Linked DNA regions of Homo sapiens: region 1 is linked to region 2. Evidence: fine-mapped expression QTL. Tissue or cell type: whole blood. Region 2 holds a variant in brackets; the other region holds the start of a gene. All regions are shown on one strand. Distances are between the middles of the regions.

Region 1 (8,106 bases), 33 kb before region 2:
CACGTGCCACAATGGCCAGCTAATATTTTGTATTTTTAGTAGAGACCAGGTTTCACCATGTTGGCCAGGCTGGTCTCGAACTCCTGGCCTCAAGCGATCCACGTGCCTTGGCCTCCCAAAGTGTTGGGATTACAGGCGTGAGCCACTGCACTTGGCCTATCTTTCCACTCTTGAAATTTTAATTTCTGCTGTCATATTTTTTCATCTCTGAATGCTTTTCTTATTTTATTTATTTTTACCCTCCCCATTTACAAGTGAGTGCTCCTTTTATTATTCATTTATTTATCTATTTAATTATTTATGTTTGAGACAGAGTTTTGCTTTGTTGCCCAGCTGGAGTGCAGTGGTGTAATCTCGGCTCGCTGCAACCTCTGCCTGCTGGGTTCAAGAGATTCTCCTGCCTCAGCCTCCTGGGTAGCTGGGATTACAGGCTCCCACCACCAGGCCTGGCTAATTTTTGTACTTTTAGTAGAGACAGGCTTTCACCATGTTGGCCAGGCTGGTCTTGAACTCCTGACCTCAGGCAATTTGTTCTGCCTCAGCCTCCCAAAGTGCTGAGATTACAGGCAGGAGCCACCGTGCCCAGCCAATGCTCCTTTTAAATAGTATCCTTTTCTCTCATATGTGGGAGCTTAACATTAAACAAATTGAATTCAAGGAGATAGAGAGTAGAATGATTGTTACCAAAGGCTGAAAGGGTAGCAGGGAGGAAGGCATAAATTGGGGATGGTTAATGGGTCCAAAAATACAGTTAGGGGCCAGGTGCAGTGGCTCATGGCTGTAATCCTAGCACTTTGGGAGGTCAAGACAGGAGAATCGCTTGAGCTCAGGAGTAGAGCCCAGCCTGGGCAACATAGCGAGTCACTGTCTCAACAAAAAAAAGTTAGCCAGGAATGGTGGTGCCAGTCTATAGTCCTAGCTACTCAGGAGGCTGAGGTGGGTGGATCCCTTGAGCCCAGGAGTTTGAGGTTACAGTGGGTTATGGCTGCACCACTGCACTCCTGCCTGGGCAACAGAGGGAGAACTTGTCTCAAAAAACAAACAAAAAAACCAAAACCAAAACAAATGACGACAACAACAACAATAAAACAGAGTGACTACAGTTAATAATTTATTGCATATTTTAAAATAACTAAAAGAGTGGAATTGGACTGTTCCTAACACAAAGAAATGATAAATTCTCAAGATGATCAATACCCCAGTTACTCGGATTTGATAGTTACACATTGTATACCTGTATCAAAACATCACATGTCAGACGGCTGGGCAGCCATGGCGTCCTATATCGATGAACACGACTGTGAGCCGTTGGACCCTCAAGCAGGAGACTCGAACCAACATGGTGCTGGAGCTCGTAAGGTCACTTTTGAATAGGATGGACTTTGAAGACTTGGGGTTGGTAGTAGATTGGGACCACCACCTGCCTCCACCGGCTGCCAAGATTGTGGTTGAGAACCTCTCCAGGACAGTCATCAGAGGCTCTCAAGGCTGAGCTCAAGTGCCCCGTGTATCTTTTGGAATCTGAGGAGGAGACTGCCATTGAGATGCTTCCCAACACCTTTTTCATTCCAGTTGCATTCTGCCCTGGCTAAGCAAGACAAATTCCTGTCCCTTGTGCCGCCATGAGCTGCCCACTGATGACTACACTTATGAGGAACACAGACGAGATAAGGCTCGAAAACAGCAGCAGCAGCAGAACCGACTGGAGAACCTCCATGGAGCCATGTACACGTGAGGAGGCTGGGGCTGAGCGCCGGTCCTCTGTGTCTTCCCTACAAACCTTGAATCCTCATTAAAATTTCTTTACCCGTCCCCCGCCCCGCCCCAGAAAAAAAGGCCGGGCGCAGTGGCTCACACCTGTAATCCCAGCACTTTGGTACGCCAAGGCGGGCAGTTCACCCGAGGCCGGGAGTTCGAGACCAGCCTGACTAACATGGAGAAACATCGTCTCTACTAAAAATACAAAATTAGACGGGCGTGGTGGTGCATGCCTGTAATCCCAGCTACTTGGGAGGCTGAGGCAGGCGAATCGCTTGAACCTGGGAGGCGGAGGTTGCTGCGAGCAGAGATAACGCCATTGCACCCCAGCCTGAGCAAAAAAAAAACAAACACACATGTACACTATAAATATATACGATTATGTTCCCATAATAGGTAATTTAAAAAATAGTATCCTTGTTTTTTTTTTTTTTTTTAAATGAGACGGAGTCTTGCTCTGTCGTCCAGGCTAGAGTGCAGTGGTGCGGTCTCTGCTCACTGCACGCTCCACCTCCCGGGTTCACGCCATTCTCCTGCCTCAGCCTCCTGAGTAGCTGGGACTACAGGCGCCCACCACCACGCCTGGCTAATTTTTTGTATTTTTAGTAGAGACGGGGTTTCACCATGTTAGCCAGGATGGTCTCGATCTCCTGACCTCGTAATCTGCCTGCCTCGGCCTCCCAAAGTGCTGGGATTACAGGCGTGAGCCACAGCGCCCAGCCATCCTTGTTTTATGCTTGCAATAGTAATTTGTAGCTCGATTATATATCTCTGTGCACATGTATTTGATTTTTCTTCTCACCGTGTGGTTTCTTTTTCCTCTGAGGGTTGCTTTCCCCCCCCCTTGTTTGTTATGGTCTCTATGGTACTCCTTCCGTGTTAGTTTGTTTAAGAGGCTGTCAAGTCCACAGGTCCTCTACACAACCCTTGCTGCTAGGTAGCTCCCTTTCCTCCTCCCTGGTAAAAGACAGGGTTTTGGGCGAAACACATGTTAGATGCTCTGTTCTCTTCATTCAGCTCCCAGAACGCTTATAACCACCTCTACACCCTCTAGGCAGGAAATCAGAAGCTCATCTCTAGGGACTCTGACCAACGTTAAAAGAAATATCTAAAGATACTGACATTCATTGGAAACCCCCAACTAAATATTCGAACCAAATAACCCTGCACCGAAGCTCCTAGTCAACAAGCCCCCCACACTCTCAGAACATCTGGATATTGCCTAAAATATAAATTTAAATTATTCATATTGAATTTAAGGCGTTGGGAGAGGGATATCTTAAAGTTCCATCATTAAGAGCTTCAATAAAGTGGAGGGGACTTTTACCGCGGTGGAGTGAGCGAATCCCTTCTCTGGAGCTCCATAGGGGAGGGTGCCCGCTTCCTGAGTGGCCGTTCCGACCTCCGGTCAGGAGGGGGAGGAACAGAGCACGGCCGGCGGCTGCACGGGCAGGGCCTCTCTGGGCTGAGAGGAAGAAACCAGTGAGACATCGAGAGGAAGTCGCTGTGGCACTCAGTCCTACGGCCTCCGAGGCTGGGTAGTGAGTGTGTCGCTGGCCTTAGCCAGACTCCACAGGCCACGCTGGCTGCGAATGGAGCCGAGGACTCGCGCGGAGGCGAGATGCTACCAGCCGGCGAGATCGGCGCCTCTCCTGCAGCCCCGGTGAGACGGCCCTGGCGTCCCTGGGAGGGGACATTGGTGGCCCATTGAGGTGGCACAGACCTCCCGGGGGAGATAGTCCCGGTGCGGTGGCCCTGTAAGCTTGTGAAGGTGCTTCCTGCGGCTTAGATTAGAGGCCCTTGTAAGACCTCCTAGAGGAGGCGGTAGTCCCCGTGAAGTGGCTTTGGCGGCCCTGGTGAGATGACAGATTTCTCTAGGGAGGTGGCTCTAGTGAGCAGGCAAGGTAACTCCAGGTCCTGCGGAGGTGACACACACCTCCTGGGAAGGTGGCGGTGGCACCAGGACAGTGGCACTTTGAGGTACCTGATTCGGACGGCCCTGGTCGCTCAGAAAGTGGGAGAGCGTCTGGAACCTCTCTTGCCTCCAGTGGGTGCCCTTTGGGAGCCCCGTATGCTTTCCATCCACGACTTTAATCTTAATGTGCTTGTCACATCTGTTCTTCTTCTAGTGCTGCTCTGAAAGTGGTGACGAAAGGAAGAACCTCGAGGAGAAAAGTAAGCCAGCTCCAAACACCTTAGCTTTTTCTTCCCGCCCAAACTCAGCCTTCCAGGGTCTGCAATATAGAAAGGTTCTTTGCCTATCTTTTAGATGCAGTACCGTTTTCTGCACAATATGCTTATATGGTAATACTGATGACCATGATACACATATTTTTGTCTTTCTAAAATTGTAAAATATGGGATGCTTTGGAGAAGAGCACTTCCCGATCCATACCTAGTACAGGGACTAGAGTGTTTTCGCTGGAAGTCTGCCTATCATACAGTACTCAGAATAATTGGGGCCTGCCTGTCATTTTAATGAAACATCAACTTACTAAGCATCAGGAATTTGGAGGGGCCCATGATCTAGGACAGACGACCACCACCCTAATTGGGTTCAAAGGAGGCAAATGACAGTTGTTTAGTTCACCTTCAGTAAATTGGCAATTTAAAATTGCTCTGGCAAGAGCACAACGGATAACTTGGGTTCTGGATCTTGGACTGGACAGGAAAGGGGGAAAAGGTCAGTACCACCATTTCCTCCCTAGTACGGGAGTATATGTCAGGGTTGTGGACTTTTGCCATTTTACTTTGATGGCAGGTTATTGCAAATCAAGGGCTCTTTAGGGACCTTTGAAGTGACATTTTTTGGGAGAGGAAGGGGAAAAGCATGTGATAGCTCTGCTATTGGGATTTTTGGTTCTTTTGACTGTGGCAAACAGTTGGGAATGTGTAGCAGTAAGAAAAACGGTGCCCACATTAGCACATGGCCCTTAGGAGTAAGATTTGCCCTTAACATTAGCGGCTGATAGAATCTGCCTCAGAAAGAAGGCTCTGAGCAGTCCATAGCACATGACTGTCATAACTGCCACATCTCAGCTCCTTTTTCTTGAAGGATTTCAGAGTGCCTTGTATCTCTCAGTTAAACCCTTCCCTTTCCATTTTCCACCTTTGCCTCATTCAGATGCCTGGAAAGTAGTCTGATGCCTACTGAGCTGTCATTTTAATAAAATAATAGATGTAGACTATCATATCAAGGACTTTGACCTTGTTCCTCTTTCCACAGCTCAAACTGCTTTGCAGTTAGGAGTGCTCTTTACAAAAAATAGAAAAGGAGACACATAAAAACCTCCCAAACCACCGGTGTGTCATTTTGAAGAATGTCATTTCACTAAGAATGTACTATGCCACATTTGAATGGTTACACATCAAGGGTGTAATTTTTTTTTTTTTTGAGACTTAGTCTCACTCTGTCTCTCAGGCTGGAGTGCAGTGGCGCGATCTCGCCTTACTGCAAGCTCCGCCTCTGAGTTCAAGTAATTCCCCTGCCTCGGCCTCCTCAGTAGCTGGGATTACTGGTGCCCGCCAAACACCCGGCTAATTTTTGTATTTTTAGTAGAGGCAGGGTTTCACCATTTTGGTTAGGCTGGTCTTGAACTCCTGACCTCAGGCAATCCACCGTCCTCGGCCTTCCAAAGTGCTGGGATTATAGGCATGAGCCACTGTGCTCAGTGGGTGTAATTTTTTTTAAAAAATGAAGGTAGAATTTCCTCCCTAAGATACAGCAACTTTAGCATTCACAAAACATTTCCTGCCTCCATTTATCTGCAGATACACCACACAAATCACTTGTTTTATTTAAGATTTAAAAAAGGCATTGTGAGTTCTGTACATAATAGTAGATTATTATACGTTAATATTATATATAATTATATAGTATAATTAATATATAATTTGTATTATATAGTCCCATTTATAACCTTGAGATATAGGCTGGGGCAAATGTTACAATTTGTTTTCTAGTTGGAAAATTGAGGCATAGTGTTATGTTAATATTGCCTCTCCTACCCTCTAAATTGTCAATTTAAAATTGCTCTGGGAAGGCACAATGTATAGCTTGGGTTCTGGATCTTGCACTGAACAGGAAAGGGGGAAAAGGTCAGTACCACCTCCTGATTCTCACAGCATGTGAAAAATCTTTTAATTTAATTCATATAAGTTAAGTAGAACAAAGGAAATTTTGTTTGTTGGGGTGTAGGGGTGGAGACAGGAACATACTCTGTATAAAACATTGGTATATATTCTGTTAATCTTTACATAAATAGTTGACCAATATCTGACATTTACATTTTGCACTTAGGCATATCATTATTTAGATATTAATATTAATAAGCCTAATGTGTATTGGACTTATTAAATGTCACAAAACAGGTAGTTTATTTGCCATGGAAAGAATCTCACTTTATACTATTTAGTGGTTGCATTTGTCATTTTGATTTTTTCCTAGTAATTTGTTCTCTCATATTTTCTTTTTTCTGTTTCTGACAAAGATATCTTTGTACAATGACATCGATGACATTTGAAGCTTAAAAACCTTTTTTTTTTTTTTTTTTGAGGCAGAGTCTCACTCTGTTGCCCAGGCTGGAGTGCAGTGGCGTGATCTCGGCTCACTGCAACCTCCGCCTCCCGGGTTCAAGCGATTCTTCTGCCTCAGCCTCCCGAGTAGCTGGGACTATAAGCGTGCACCGCCATGCCCAGCTAATTTTTGTATTTTTAGTAGAGACAGGTTTTCACCATATTGGCCAGGCTGGTCTCGAACTCCTGACCTTGTGATCTGCCTGCCTCAACCTCCCAAAGTGCTGAGATTACAGGCCTGAGCCACCTCGCCCAGCCAAACCTTTTTTACTTTTTTGTTTGTTTGTTTGTTTGTTTTTAAGAGATGAGGTCTTGCTCTGCTGTCCAGGCTGGAATGTAGTAGTGAGATCATGGCTCACTGCAGCCTCCATCTCCCAGGCTGCTCAAGCAATCCTCCCACCTCAGCCCACCTGAGACTACAGGTGTGTTCCACCATTCCTGGCTAATTTTGTTAGATGAAGTCTTGCTTTGTTGCCTAGGCTGGTCTAGAACTTCTGGGCTCAAGTGATCCTCCTGCCTTGGCCTCCCACAGTGCTGGGATTACAGGTGTGAGCCCCTGCGCCCGGTCTTTTTAAAAACACTTTAAAACAAGAGTCTTCTTTTGGTGTTGCCCTAGACCATACTACTGGTTCCTTACACATTTTGAAAAGGTATTATTCCTTGTCTATTGAAACCTGTGGTTACTGGATCACACTTTAGGAATTTTTCCTTTAATACTTCCCTCAGCTCTTAAGCATTTTGCAGTAGTTGTTTGATAGAGTGCTTTAGAGCTATTCTTCTGGGCATTTGTCTGTGTGTGTTGTTCTTTAAATTATTAACTTTGTTTTGTTTTGGTTTTGTTTTTTGATACAGAGTCTCTGTCGCCCAGGCTGGAGTGCAGTGGCGCTTTGTTTTGGTTTTGTTTTTTGATACAGAGTCTGTCTGTGTCGCCCAGGCTGGAGTGCAGTGGTGTGATCTTGGCTCACTGCAACCTCTGCCTCTTGGGTTCAAGGGATTCTCGTGCCTCAGCCTCCCGAATAGCTGGGACTACAGGCCTGTGCCCCCACGCCTGGCTAATTTTTGTATTTTTAGTAGAGACGGGATTTCGCCGTGTTTGCCAGGCTAGTCTTAAACTCCTGGCCTCAGGTGATGCACCTGCCTCAGCCTCCCAAAGTGCTGGGATCACAGGTGTGAGCCACCGTGCCTGGCAAAATTATTAACTTTTGAAGGCAGATAAACTGCTTTTATATGTTTTATATTTTCTTTAACTCCATAGTACTTAGTGGCGTTGAGTAATTGTTATTCTTTTGTTGTAGGTGACATAAATGTTACAGTTCTTATTGGAAGTAAACAAGTCAGTGAAGGTACAGATAATGGTGATCTCCCTTCTTATGTGTCTGCATTCATAGAAAAGGAAGTTGGAAATGACCTTAAATCTTTAAAGAAACTTGATAAACTCATAGAACAGAGGACAGTAAGTAAAATGCAGTTAGAAGAACAGGTAAGTATTGAAACTCACTGAAATAATTATCAGTGGAATACTTTTAACAATATAATATAAACATAATCTATTATATATAGAATTTTAAAGATATAGAACGTGACAAATAGTCTATTATATACTGTTTAAGAGGATTTAAGAACGTACATTGTATTACCTATTTTACAAATTAGGTAAAAGACAAAGTTCCTACTGATATGGTTTGTCTTCAAAACATAGTGAGACCTAACATTTTACATAGATTTTCATAGAGTGACTTTTTTTTCCTTTCAATCTGTTTCTAGTGAACATAC
Region 2 (8,106 bases):
ACAGGCACCTGCCACCATGCCCAGGTAATTTTTGTATTTTTAGTAGAGATGGCATTTCACTATGTTGGCCAGGCTGGTCTCAAACTCCTGACCTCAGGTGATCCACCTGCGTCAGCCTCCCAAAGTGCTGAGATTACAGGCATGAGCCACCACGCCTGGCCGATAGTGTCATTTTTTTTAAGTTCATGATTACCGTACACAGAAGTTGAAAGAGAAAAATATTTTTCACTATATGTAATCCATGTGATACAAAATTCAAAAGCCACAAAACTGTATATATTGAAAATATATATATAGTGAAAATAAGTCTTAATTCTAATCTTCCCTAAAGCCAATCACTTTGATCAATTTCTTGTATATACTACTAAAGCTATTTATATAAATACTGGTGTGTGTATGTCAACGTGTGGTAACATACTATGCAAACTCTTCTGCTTTTTCCGGTTAACAATATATCTTGAGATTGTTCCATTTCAGAATAGTTTAACATTGACTAGTGGGAATGTAACATGGTACAGTTGCTGTGGAAAACAGTATGGCAGTTCCGCAAACTGTTTTTTTGTTTTCTGAGATGAGATCTCGTTCTTTCACCCAGGCTGCAGTGCAGTGGCACAATCTTGGCTCACTGCAACCTCTGCCTCCTGGGCTCCAGCAGTCTTCCCATCTCAGCCTCCTGAGTAGCTGGGAGGTCTGTGGCCACCACACTCAGCTAATTTTTAATTTTTTTCTAGAGATAAGGTCTCACTATAAAATGATTCTCTGGCCTCAGCCTCTTAAAGTGCTGGCACTATAGGCATGAGCTACCATGCCTAGCCTTTCAAACTGTTAAAACATAGACTTACCATAAGATCCAGCAATTCCACTCTTCAGTACATACCAAGAGAAATGAAACATATGTCCACATAAAAACTTGTACTGCCAGGCTTGGTGACTCACGCCTGTAATCCCAGAACTTTGGGAGGCTGAGGTGGGCGGATCATGAGGTCAGGAGTTTGAGACCAGTCTGACCAACATGGTGAAACACCATCTCTACGAAAGTTACAAAAAAAAAAATTAGCCAGGTGTGCTGGCACACGCCCGTAATCCCAGGTACTTAGGAGACTGAGGCAGGAGAATCGCTTGAACCCGGGAGGCGGAGACTGCAGTCAGCCAAGATCACCCCACTGCACTCCAGCCTGGGTGACAGAGCGAGATTCCGTCTCAAAACAAAAAACAAAAAAACAAAACAAAAAAAACTTGTACAAAAATGTTCACAGCAGCATTTGTTCATAATAGACAAAGTAGAAGCTACCCAAATGTCCACCAGCTGATGAATGGATAAATAAAATGTGGTCTATCTATATAATGGAATATTACCTGGCAATGTAAAAAAAATGAAGTGCTGATACGTGTTACAATATGATACGTGTTACAATATGGATAGACCTTGAAAATGTACTGAAAGAAGACAGTCACAACCAACCATACGTTGTATGATTTCATTTATATGAAATGTCCAGAACAGGCAAATCCATTGAGACAGAAAGTCAATTAGTGGTTGCCTATGAGTTGAGGGAGTGGGGAGACGGTATTAGAGGATAACGGCTTTTTTCTTGGTGATGAAAATGTTCTAAAATTGTGATGGATATACAACTGAATATATAAAAAAATCATTGAATTATACACTATTATTAGTTTTGAGATGGAGTCTCACTTTGTCGCCCAGGCTGGAGTGCAGAGGCATGATCTCGGCTCACTGCAACTTCCACCTTCCAGGTTCAAGCTAGGATTACAGGCACATGCCACCACACCCGGCTTATTTTTGTATTTTTAGTAGAGTTGGAGTTTCACCATGTTGGCCAGGATGGTTTCGAACTCCTGACCTCAGGTGATCCACCCACCTCAGCCTCCCAAAGTGCTGGGATTACAGGCATGAGCCACCGTGCCCGGTCGAATTATACACTTTAAATGGGTGAATTGTATGACATATGAATTCTATTTCAAACTGTTAAAAAAAAAGTATGCTAATGTGTTAACATGTTTTTGCTTTCAGTTCTTTCTACAACTTCAACAGGCTGCACTGGAGGTGTTTGCAGAGAATAATACTCTGAGTAAATTGCAGCTAGGACAGCTAGCCTCTATGGAGAGCTCTGTCTTTGATGACATGATTAACCTCTTAGAACGTTTAAAGCATGATATGTTGACCCGTCAAGTAGACCACGTTTTTAGAGAAGTTAAAGATGCTGCAAAATTGTATAAAAAAGAAAGGTATGTCCTCTATGTAAGTCAGCTCTTAACACCAGTTTGGTAAAAGTTAAAGAATATGTGGTCAGATTTTCAAGGTGTCTAGATAGAACCCGGTTTGGCCTTATGTACTTTATTGTTGATGGAAATATTTCTAAAGTATGTTCTCTTGGACATTTTTTTTGAGACAGTCCTACTCTGTCACCCAGGCTGGAGTGCAGTTGCACGATCTTGGCTCATTGCAACCTCTGCCTTAGAGGTTCAAGTGACCTTCCCACCTCAGCCTCCCAAGTAGCCAGGACTACAGGCATGCACCACCACACAAGGCTAATTTTTGTATTTTTAGTAGAGATGTGGTTTCACATTTTGGGCAGGCTGATCTCCAACTCCTGACCTCAGGCAAGCCACCTGCCTCGGCCTCCCAAAGTGCTAGGATTACAGGTGTGAGCCACCACACCTGGCTGACATTCTTAATCAGAATAAACTGATTATAATTTAGTTGTTTGTAAATATATCAATAGGATAGTGTGTGATCTGGGGTTGAATAGCCTAACCTGTCTCCCATTTTGCAAAGTAAAGTGCACCTGTGGTACTCTGCATACTTTTGTTGTGGTTTATCCCACTACCATTCACTGTGAACACCTGTGTTACTTTCATCCTTGATAGCAAGCAGTATCTTTTTGTCCTAGCATAGTCCCTGCCACACAGAGTGCTTAAAATTCGTTTATTAGTCCTGTTTTTACTAAAAATTAGAGGATAATATTAGCTGATGTCTTAATTAAAATGCTAAAATCAGGCTGGGTGCAGTGGCTCACACCTGTAATCCCAGCACTTTGGGAGGCCAAGGCGGGCAGATTACTTGAGGGCAGCAATTCGAAACTAGCCTGGCCAACATGGCGAAACCCTGTCTCTACTAAAAAATTCAAAGATTAGCTGGGCGTGGTGGTGGGCACCTGTAATCCCAGCTACTTGGGAGGCTGACACGAGAATTGCTTGAACCCTGTGGCTCTAGCCTGGCCAACAGAGCGAGACTCTGTCTCAAAAAAAAAGAAAAACTACATAAATAAAATGCAAAAATTAAGTGACATTTTAAATTGTAATTGCCTTATATCAGTAATTCACATATTAAAATTTGGGGATATTTTGGATATATCCCCATATTAAAGAGTATTTGAGAGTGAAAATATAAATACAGGTACATTTATTTTCTGATAGAGCTTTTAATGTTAGGCTGTATATTTTTTCTTATCCAAAATGCCCTAGGACAGAACACTTCCTCAAATTTAAAATGATTTAAAAACTTGAAAAATAGAAACTGATGAAAATTTTTTGGTAAAAATGTGTTTTTTCCAGATGGTTGTCCTTGCCATCTCAGTCAGAGCAGGCAGTGATGTCCCTGTCCAGTTCGGCTTGCCCGTTGCTGCTGACGTTACGAGACCATTTACTTCAGTTGGAGCAGCAGCTTTGTTTCTCCTTATTTAAAATTTTCTGGCAAATGCTTGTAGAGAAGCTGGATGTATACATCTACCAAGAAGTAAG[T/A]AAGAATAGACTGTTTTTGGGCTGTGATAATAAAGACAACTGTTATATGAATTATTCTTTGTTTCAGATAATTCTTGCTAATCACTTCAATGAAGGAGGAGCAGCCCAGCTGCAGTTTGATATGACTCGGAATCTTTTCCCTTTGTTTTCTCACTATTGCAAGAGACCAGAAAATTATTTTAAACAGTAAGCTCAACATTTAACAATTAATATTAATGTATCAAATTGTTACAGGAGGCTAACTCCTTTTAACTTTAGGGTTCTGGAGATGTTTGGGTGGGATAAGATCAGTTGAAATTTTAAAACATTGTCTATCTACTGTATGCTTACAGCACAATGGGGAAACCAAGATGATAGATGTGACCCATGACCTCAAAAAGTTTCAGAACTAGATATAAATTACCTGTTGGGTTTTGTTTTCTAGTATTTGGTTTAATGCTTCTAGTTGCTTAGTTACTGGAGGAATAAATAGAAAATGAAAACAAGTACAGTTGTGCCCTATTCACTAAATATAAGAAATTACAGGGCCGGGCGTGGTGGCTCACGCCTGTAATCCCAACACTTCGGGAGGCTGAGTTGGGCAGATCACAAAGTCAGGAGATCGAGACCATCCTGGCTAACATAGTGATACCCCCATCTCTACTAAAAATACCAAAAAAAAAAAAATTAGCCAGGCCTGGTGGCGGGCACCTGTAGTCCCACCTGCTTGGGAGGCTGAGGCAGGAGAATGATGTGAACCCGGGAGGCGGAGCTTGCAGTGAGCCAAGACTGTCTCAAAAAAAAAAAAAAATTACAAATATGTTTAATACCTAATAGGCCAGGCCTGAAAGAAATTTGTTTCCTTAAACATTTGACATTAATTTTGGTTCTAAATATAATTATAGTTTCAGAATTTGTTGATCTAAAATTTATAGGCCAGGCATAGTAGCCCACATCTGTAATCCCAGTACTTTGGGAGGCAGAGGTGGGAGAATTGCTTGAGGCCAGCTGTTTGAGACCAGCCTGGGCAACATAGCAAGACTCCATCTCTACAGAAAGTATTAAAATGAACAAACAAAAAAAAGCCAGGTGTGGGGGTGTGGACCTGTAGTCCTAGCTACTTGAGAGGCTGAGGCTGTAGTGAGCTATGATCGTGCAGTTTCACTCCAGCCTAGGTGACAGAGCAAGACCATGTCTCAAAAAAAAAAAGTAAAATTTAAATTATGTTTGGGTTTTGTGAGGTTATAAAGCATTCCTTTTAGACTTATAAAATGAAAGCTTATGTTTACACGTTTCATAGGACTGTTTTTAAAATTTATTTTAATGTTCTTTCTGCTGCTTTCATTTATCTCTTATTTTTGTCTTTTCCCATGTTCTAATCTACCTAAAGTTATAGCTATATTTAATATAGTGTTAATATTAAGTATTGTATTTAGGGAAATAACGGATACATATTGAAATAGGGATCGTATTACCTTATAGTAATCTAAAGAAATAGCAACTCTGCACCTGTGTAGTCTTACCATGTTAAAAGAACCAAATAATAAATCCATAAATATTTTTATAGAGAACATGTGGACCAGCAGTGCAGAGAAGCTGTTTAGGATTCTCAAAATTGTAATATAATTGATGCAGATAATGGAGATCTCATTTCCCTCCTTTGTTTTCCCTAAACAGTATAAAAGAAGCCTGTATTGTTTTGAATTTGAACGTCGGTTCTGCACTACTGCTGAAAGATGTACTGCAGTCAGCTTCAGGGCAGCTTCCTGCCACAGCAGCATTAAATGAAGTTGGAATTTACAAACTGGCTCAACAAGATGTTGAGATTCTACTTAATTTGAGGACAAATTGGCCTAATACTGGAAAATAATGTCTTTCAGAAAAAGGTTTCTTTGGTTTTTGTTTCTAAGAAAGAGGAAGCCAATTGGATTTCAAGTTATATGATGAAATTCTGAATTAATGAAACTGGAAAACTTTATAGAATTACTTATTATCTTGGATTTATGGTGTTATTAAAATGCTGACCATATTTCCTTCATCCTCTTGTTCCTAAGGAAACAAAAACAGAAAACGAAACAATGAAAACTCAATTCTATTTACAAGTATAAATGCTGAGTATGTCTGTTGAAGACGAGCAGAGATATTAAATTATAACCAACTTTCAATTTCCTGTGCTAATTAAGGGAAATTCTGTTGTGGATAATCAAACATAGCCAATAAATTTTTTTAAAACTCCCTTTGAATGCATATTTGTAATTGAGGCACCTGTATCTAGTTTGGGAATTAACTGTATTTCCATGAGGAAACTGGCAGGGCACAGTGTCTCATGCCTGTAATCCCAGCACTTTGGGAGGCTGAGGTAGGAGGATTGCTTGAGGCAGGAGTGCGAAAACATCCTGGCCAACATGTCAAGACCCTGATGCATGCCTGTAGTTCTAGCTACTTGGGAGGCTGAGGTGGGAGGCTAGCTTGAGCCCAGGAGGTCAAGACTACAGTGAGCTCTGATTGTGACACGGCACAGCAGCCTGGGCAAGCGAACAAGACCCTGTCTCTAAAGAACAAAACAAAACACATTGTGAGATGGTGAATAAGATAGGATTGTTCTTCATTTCTCACAAATGCCCTTCTATTTTAAATGCTTCCTAGTTTCATTCTGTGTGACAGTGGGCAACCCTTTCTTTCTGGATGAAACATTTCAGGCCATGGCACTCTGACTCAAACATTCCCATGTGGTAGGGAATGTAATTAAACATTTTTATTATTTATGTAACTTATGAGACAAAAGTCTCAAAAGTTTATTTTTTCTTGTAACTTTTCCTTGTCCTTGGGGTATATTCAATAATAGTTACTTGACTAATAAAATCTCAGAGTAAAACTCTTTAAAAAATTGAGCTAGATTCCCTGGAAACTTTCCACAACTATTAAATTTTATTCCAATGGTTTTTCTCTGACTTAGCAGTGGGTTAGTACTTTTAATCCTGTAATATCTCAAAATCTAAAATTATCAGACTAACATGCAGCCTATGCTTCTGATAAACATTTACTTTGTGATAATTTTGAGGAAATATTTTGAGATAGATTCTATTAGTATGTATTTTATAGAGAGAGTTTCCAGCTAGTGTGTTGAGCTCAAAATGTTTCTGTTTGTTAGTTGTCCTAGCATATTGGTGCTTCTTCACCTCATCCTTTGAGAATTGCTGGGGCTTCCTATTTAGAATGGAGCTGGCTGGGCACAGCCCATTACATGCCTGTAATCCCAGCACTTTGAGAGGCCGAGGCAGTGGATCACTTGAGATCAGGAGTTTGAGACCAGCCTGGCCAACATGATGAAACCCTGACTCTACTAAAAATACAAAAAAATTATCTGGATGTGGTGATGCGCATCTGTAAGCCCAGCTACTGGGAAGCTGAGGCAGGAGAATCGCTTGAACCCGGGAGGTGGAGGTTGCAGTGAGCCGACATATTGCCACTGCACTCCAGCCTGGGCAACAGAGCAAGACTCCATCTCAGGGAAAAAAAAAAAAAAAAAAAGAATGGAGCTGCCTCTGGAACTTCCTCTCTAACCCCAGCATTTTCCCTTCCTATTCCCAAGTTTAGGGACTTTACCGTCAGCCTTACCTGTCCTCACTTTCCAGTCAGCTGAAAGTTTCAAGGGAACAAAATATTTCTTTCAAAAGATAGGAACCTGTTTTAAAGGTATTAATTGTGCTTCAAAATCATGCCACCTTATTAAAATATTTGTCACTTAAAAATAAACTTACACTTCCTCCTTGAATTTATCCAAAGTTATTTTATGTCCATCATCTTGTAAATCTTCATCTTCAGTGCATAGACCCAGGGTTTTTAGGGCTGTAAAATAATGAGAAGAAATGAAGTGAGAATTTTACAAAGTGAGAAGTATTTTCTGCTAGAAAAAACTGTGGAATGACCACAAACTATTACCTCAATTTGTAGAATGTACTGACCTTCTTTATACTGCACAAATGATATGGTGCCTCTGCCTGAGGAGTCCATCATCTCAAACATAGCCACAATGTTAGAGTTATCCATAAAGAAAGGAAACGCCACGCCTGTTACTTTTGCAATTCTCAGTCGTTCCAATAGAGATATTAAATATTCTTTTGGTTTTTCTGCAAAAGAATAGTTCCAGCTCTTTCTGATACGAAATTAAAATATGTCGCAAATAGAAGTAGTCATTTAACAATTATTAAACAGCTATAGCAAAGGCACTGTACTAGGCGCTGGGGACACAGGCCTTAGTTTTCATAAACAGTCCAGCAAGAAGGTAAGACATTGAACACTTAAATAATTACATATACAAATGCCCTATCTCAGATGATAGAATAGAAAACTATAGAGACTGGA

The links. PIP is the estimated chance that this variant, and not a neighbour inherited with it, causes the effect.
Region 1: it holds the start of RINT1, and the variant in region 2 is fine-mapped to the expression of RINT1 in whole blood (TOPMed, PIP above 0.99).

The regions. Positions count from the first base shown.
Region 1 is chr7:105,528,937-105,537,042 of GRCh38, forward strand. RINT1 (RAD50 interactor 1) reads left to right here and starts at 3,265. Exons shown (of 15, transcript NM_021930.6): 1 at 3,265-3,421; 2 at 3,888-3,933; 3 at 7,629-7,813. The coding sequence starts at 3,380. It also overlaps the pseudogene LOC100131785. RefSeq lists enhancers at 2,546-2,595, 2,883-3,460, 3,046-3,345, 3,436-3,615, 3,461-4,037.
Region 2 is chr7:105,561,701-105,569,806 of GRCh38, forward strand. RINT1 (RAD50 interactor 1) reads left to right here. Exons shown (of 15, transcript NM_021930.6): 12 at 2,033-2,247; 13 at 3,577-3,757; 14 at 3,830-3,948; 15 at 5,419-5,977. The coding sequence ends at 5,611. EFCAB10 (EF-hand calcium binding domain 10) reads right to left here. Exons shown (of 5, transcript NM_001355526.2): 2 at 7,707-7,871; 3 at 7,503-7,590; 4 at 5,767-5,790; 5 at 3,424-3,747. The coding sequence ends at 3,747. Among named protein-coding and RNA genes, the nearest start is that of EFCAB10-AS1, 5.3 kb to the right of the region's middle. The variant T/A (reference allele first, on the strand shown) is at 3,763.